Regions from separate parts of the Homo sapiens genome. Here region 1 is linked to region 2. Evidence: fine-mapped expression QTL. A gene starts in region 2. The other region holds a variant in brackets. All regions are shown on one strand. Distances are from middle to middle. Region 1 overlaps CD48 (CD48 molecule). Region 2 holds the start of CD48 (CD48 molecule).

The links. PIP is the estimated chance that this variant, and not a neighbour inherited with it, causes the effect.
Region 1: its variant is fine-mapped to the expression of CD48 in whole blood (TOPMed, PIP above 0.99). The same link has a PIP of 0.9 or more in blood mononuclear cells and monocytes.

Annotation. Positions count from the first base shown.
Region 1 is chr1:160,677,504-160,680,419 of GRCh38, forward strand. It overlaps CD48 (CD48 molecule), which reads right to left. Exons shown (of 4, transcript NM_001778.4): 4 at 1,243-1,628. The coding sequence ends at 1,549. Among named protein-coding and RNA genes, the nearest start is that of SLAMF1, 32 kb to the left of the region's middle. The variant C/T (reference allele first, on the strand shown) is at 1,256.
Region 2 is chr1:160,710,606-160,713,521 of GRCh38, forward strand. It overlaps CD48 (CD48 molecule), which reads right to left and starts at 1,217. Exons shown (of 4, transcript NM_001778.4): 1 at 1,077-1,217. The coding sequence starts at 1,158. RefSeq lists enhancers at 1,466-1,645, 2,186-2,245.

The DNA.
Region 1 (2,916 bases), 33 kb before region 2:
CAGAGGTGAGTTCGGATGGGGATGCAGGCTGCTTAGGGGTGAGTTCAGATGGGGATGCAGGCTGCTCAGAGGTGAGTTCAGATGGGGATGCAGGCTGCTCAGAGGTGAGTTTGGATAGGGATGCAGGCTGCTCAGGGGTGAGTTCGGATGGGATGCAGACTGCTCAGAAGTGAGTTTGGATGGGGATGCAGGCTGCTCAGAGGTGATTTTGGATGGGACTACAGGCTGGGCTCAGGGTGGGGGGTTTCTTCGGAAGCCCAGGCTGTCTTGTGGAAAAGACAAAACCCTACCTTTCTTATCATGCTTGTGCAATGTAGGGCAGGCAGCTGCCTTCCAAACAATGGCTCCGATGCAGTTCCTTGCATCATATAGCCAGACTTCCGAAGTCCTTCACTCCTGCCACATCCATGCCGCCCACTTTCTATTGGACAGATTTCATCACATGGCTCCAGCTAAACACAAAAGTAGCTGGGAAAAAGAGTTTTTTCACTCACCCAGGGGAAAATGAGAAGGTTTGGCAAACACATAGCACTGTATCTGTCACCGAGGAGATGGGGTGAGGAGGGAAGGGCCACGAGGGAGATGGGGGAGGCTGGTCTGGTTTGAAAGGCAAGCAGTCTGTGGTGGGCAGTTTTCTGAAGGGGAAGTGCATTCTGTAGTGACCCTTTCAGCTCCAGGCACATGAGGAGACTTAGAGGAGGGGACATTAAGCAAAAATCCCAGGTGTTATGTCAGTGGTGGGCCTGGGGGCGCCTACCTGCATATAGTGGACAACTCTGGTGAGAACACTGTGTCGATCTGATGGTTTTTTTGGATCCAGTGAAACGACTAGGAGTTGAAGACTTGCCCACACAGTCAATGGAAAAGAGGAGAGAGAATTCAGCTCCCTATGCGAGGCTTGTGGGGCAGGAAGGCTTCTTATGAGATAGAGCTGCATCCTTCCTTCTGCGAGAGCAAGCCTGAACCTATGTTTGCAGCAGACTTAAGGAGAGTGGTCCTCAGAGGGGTCAGAGCAAGGCAAGCCACTGGGAAGGAGGCAAAGGCTTGGCAGGGGAGCTGGAGCCCCAGGAAGCTTAGCATGGATGTTGGAATAAGGGTCAGAAGTAGCACAAATTGGCTCCTCAGCTGTGTTGACACACAGGAGCCGGTGGCTCCAGGCTCTCCCCTCTGTGTCTCCAGATTCCAGTTTCTCCCAGCTGATGGAGCAGGCACTGTCTGACAGATTTGGGACAACTTCAGGAATTCAGTTAATTGA[C/T]AATTATATCAAATGTTTATTTTAAAAAATAATAAAACATTCACATAATGTTGTCACAATTTTGGGTGGGAAAAAAGCATGTGTATCTCTATATCTCTGTGTACTAGAAAACAACAAAGGGATATAAAATTAAATAATAACCAGTATTTAAAAGTTAACTTGAAAATCCTCGTTGATAATTCAGCAGCATGCTTCTGGTCAGCCTATACAGTCTCTGTCCTGGTGAGGAGCATGATCACCAACAGGCAAGATCTTCTGGCCTTGAAGTTTCGCTTGAGTTAAAAGAGCTCATCTCAGGTAAGTAACAGGCCAAGAATGGTGGGCACCGTGACCACTAGCCAACTTGCAATCCATTCTACTCCAAAGGACCGGGCTGAAAGAGCAAGAAAACCCTATATGCTTAGGTATCTTTATCTTGACTAATGTATTGAGAAGGGGCAAGTGTACTGGACACTGGTGTGGGAGCTCACAGAGCAGGGAAATTAATTTCTTCCCTGAATCCCATCCTATTTGGCTGGGACATTCTTTTCCTCAATCTCCCCAAACATAAAGTATAAAAAATGCAGAAATTCCTTAAATATCACTGGCTTACCTGGGCCCTGTGCTCAAAGGTTACCTCGACATATCTGTGGCCTGGGAAAGCATTGCTCCCCTACTCTGGACATCAACGAGGTAGGGTAGATCTTCAGGTACAGACAGATGACCACATGATACAATGCACAGCTGACTTTAGAGAGAAAAGGACCACTTCCTTTCCTTGTTTCTCTACCCCACTAAGTATCTGCACCAACTAGGAAGAAGAAGGGAAGAGAAAGGAAGACAGAAAAGGAAAGGAAAAGAAAAAGGATGGAAGGAAAGCTTAGATGCTGGGGTGGGGAAGGGCTGAGCTGGAGAAAATAAAAAAAAGGAATGAGTGATACAGTAGGGAAAGGAGTTTGAGGGGGCTTTCTAGGATAATTTCGGTGACTAAAAAGTGACAGATGGGTTTACCCTTCCAAAAAAAATGGATTTATTATTGCTTTTATCCTCTCTTCGGATGAACAGTCACACCCATTTTATAGAGGACAGGGAATGTGCGTCTTCCTTTTTCTGGATCTCAGGATGTGATATTGATATGAGGGTGGTGTTGGAACCACCAGCCAAATTGTGTTCTCATGGTCAGATACCACACTGTCACAGTGGGTCTGTGGTGGCAGAAGAGCAAGGCATATCAGGAGAGGCTGGTAGAGACAGGGCCAATTAGTTAGGAAGAATAAGGAAGAGCATACACAGTCTCCGTAGTCCACATGTGGGAGTAGAGATAAAGAAATCAGTGCAGTTAAGGAGGGTAGACAGAGCCCAGGAAGACCACAAAACAGCAACGTTCTCAGAGGCCAGAATCCCTGATGACTGGGCATGACAGGGGTCACAGGTGAATGTGAGCACCTCAGGTCTGAGTTATTCTAGAAGAATGTGTACGCTAGGGCTCAGGGATCTGACTTCAGGATTGTGGAGGGTATCTGACTCTGGTATTTCCCAGAGTGCTGGAGATATTGATCCAAGTTTATTAAGGGTCCCCAAAACTCTAAGAGACTGCGTCTCATTTAGCTCCCGCTTACTAAGGACTTGTCAGCCACTGTGATAGGCAGTTACGTGTCTTGTCTCATTGAATCCTTAGCACG
Region 2 (2,916 bases):
TGCTTTTCCCAATAGTTAGATGAATACTTCACATCAGCCCCCAATCCCAAGGTCATACCAATGTCCTATGCATTGAGTCAGGCCCACAGAACCTATATAGCCGTAGACTCACACAGTCATGAACCAAAGGACTCTACCTGAGAGGTAGAATATGTGAGAGACCGATCCTCCACACATTCTACCTCATCTCCCCAAAAGTTACAAACTATCATCATTTTATGCCACAGTGTGACTACCACATGTTTGTTGATTTTTACTGTTTTACTCAGAGTGGTGAGCATTAAAGCCCTTTAAATTAAAAAGACTTGAGTATTTACTTGGGGGAATAGCAAGAAAGTCAAAGGTTTCACTGCTGTTTCTCAGCTGGCATAAGAAGAGAGGTACTGGATGAAGAAAGAGGGTGAGGCAGCTCTAACAGGAGAAGGAAAGTTAGCTCAGCCCTTGGTCACACACCGGGGACCGAACAGGCTGTGGCAGAGGAATGGACCTTAACTCTTAGCAATCAGATGTGTTAAGGTTCCTTTGATGCTGAAGCACTTCCAGCCTCTTCTCAGACCCTCATTCAGAGACCCCAGACAGCAATCCTTTCCAAGCTTTTCTTCCTATAATTTTGATCTATCTTTTCTTTGGGTCAATGACAATATCATTTACCTTGGCTCAGGATGCAACACCTCACATATACAGAGGTCTCAAAGAATGCCTAAGGGAGTACAGTGTGTCTGAGCATAAAATGCAGCAGCTGTCAGTGTAGAGCTTCTTCTTATTCAAAATGAAAAAACAAACACTTTTCCACAACTTCATGGACCACCAACCACGGGACAAAATATGAGGAGCCTACTTCTCTTGCTCCCCAGGTTCCTGTTTTGATCACATCCCCGTGGGAAAGGAGATGAAGCTCCATTCATCAGTGCTAAGAAAGGCTCCCCAACCATGCCATGGCCATGCTATTGGAATGGAAATACCTGCTTTCCAGACACCAGATCTGGCTTCTAGGGTTGAACTACATCCCGTCTCCCCTTTCCCAACTGACCATGCCTTCAGTGCACAATCACAGATACACAGTTGGTGGAAAGTACCTTGAATGCTGGTCACCAGGAGTGACAGAGGCAGCAGTAGCAATTCCAGAGCCAGACACGAATCCCAACCTCTGGAGCACATGCTTCCTTCCAGAACTTCCCAGCAACGCAGGAGACAGTTGAGAGCCTGGCTAGAAAAAGGCCGGGGCTAAAAACGGAACTTACCAAACAGGGTTAGAGAGAAAAAAAAAAAAACCACTGAGATTTTCTCTCCACCCAGCACACTTGTGTGGGGCCCCAGAAACCAGAAACCGGAGGTCTTGTAAATTTTTTTATCTAAGAGCATCACGGAAACTGAGAACAATTTTGTTTGAAGGTACATGAGTGCTTTTTTGTAGGGGGAAGATTCATAGCTTCTACTGTACTCTCAGGGGGGCCAGTACTCAGAAAAGAATAAGGGACCCTGATAGAGAATGTCTGCTTTTCGTTCCCAGGCAGGAATCCCTCTGATTAATTCAGGGGCTAAGACATAGGAGCTTCCCAGTCAAGCCTGGGTAGGTGTCATTCAGAGCCTGAAGTCTGGGAAATCAGACCCACGTAGCCTTTGTGCTGCATATCTTACCCCCAGCACCACCCTCTGCTCTTCTTCCTTTATGATAATTCACTATTTGAAGTTTGACATCAGCCTATCCACTGAACATCAGAAAAAAAGTAAGATTACTTGGCCCAAAAGAATGGATTTCCCACCCTTGTAGTCTGTATTAGTCTGTTCTCACACTGCTAATAAAGACATACCCCAGACTGGGTAATTTATAAAGGAAAGAGAGGGGTTTTGTTTTGTTTTGTTTGTTTTGGTTTTTTTTTTTTTTGAGATGCAGTCTCACTCTGTAGCCCAGACTGGAGTGCAGCAGTGCAATCTCAGCTCACTGCAACCTCCACCTGACAGGTTCAAGCAACTCTCCTGCCTCAGCCTCCTACATAGCTGGGATTACAGGCAAGCACCACCATGCCCAGCTAATTTTTGTATTTTTAGTAGGGTTTCACCATGTTGGCCCGGCTGGTCTTGAACTCCTGACCTCAAGTGATCCACCTGCCTCAGCCTCCCAAAGTGCTGGGATTATAGGCATGGGCCTGTGCCTGGCCAGGAAAGTGGTTAAATTGACTTCTAGTTCAGCATGGCTTGGGAAGCCTCAGGAAACCTACAATCATGGTGCAAGGGGAAGCCAATACGTCCTTCTTCACACGGTGGCAGGAAAGAGAAGCACTGAGCAGCAATGGGGAAAGCCCCTTCCTTATGAAACCATCAGATCTAGTGAGAACTCACTATCACGAGAACAGCATGATGGTAACTGCTCGTATGATTAACTTACTTCCTACTGGGTTGCTCCCATGATATGTGGGGATTATGGGAACTACAATTCAAGATGAGATTTGGAAGGGAACACAGCCAAATCATATCATGTCTAGGAAATTTCAAGCTCATTCCTATTGAATGTAAATTAGTTATTTGCCCACCCAGGACCCACAGGCAAGCCACAGTTCCTGATATAACATATTTGTAATCACTTTTTAATTGGGGACATTTCTGATTCTCAACATGGAGATGAACAATAAAATGTCTGCTCTTCTCAGTCCTCAAACCTGAAGGACATTATGTTAAGTGAAATAAGTCATGCACAGAAAGATAAAAAACCACGTTCCCAATCATATATGGAAGCTTAAAAAATGAGCTCATAGAAGTAGAGAGTAAAATTGTGGTTATCAGAGGCTGGGAAGGGTAGAGGGAAGTGGAGGATGGGAAGAAGTTGGTTAATAGATACAAAGTTACAGCTAGAGAAGAGGAATAAGTTCCAGCATCCTGTAGCACTATGGAGTGAATACAGTTAAGAATAATTTAATG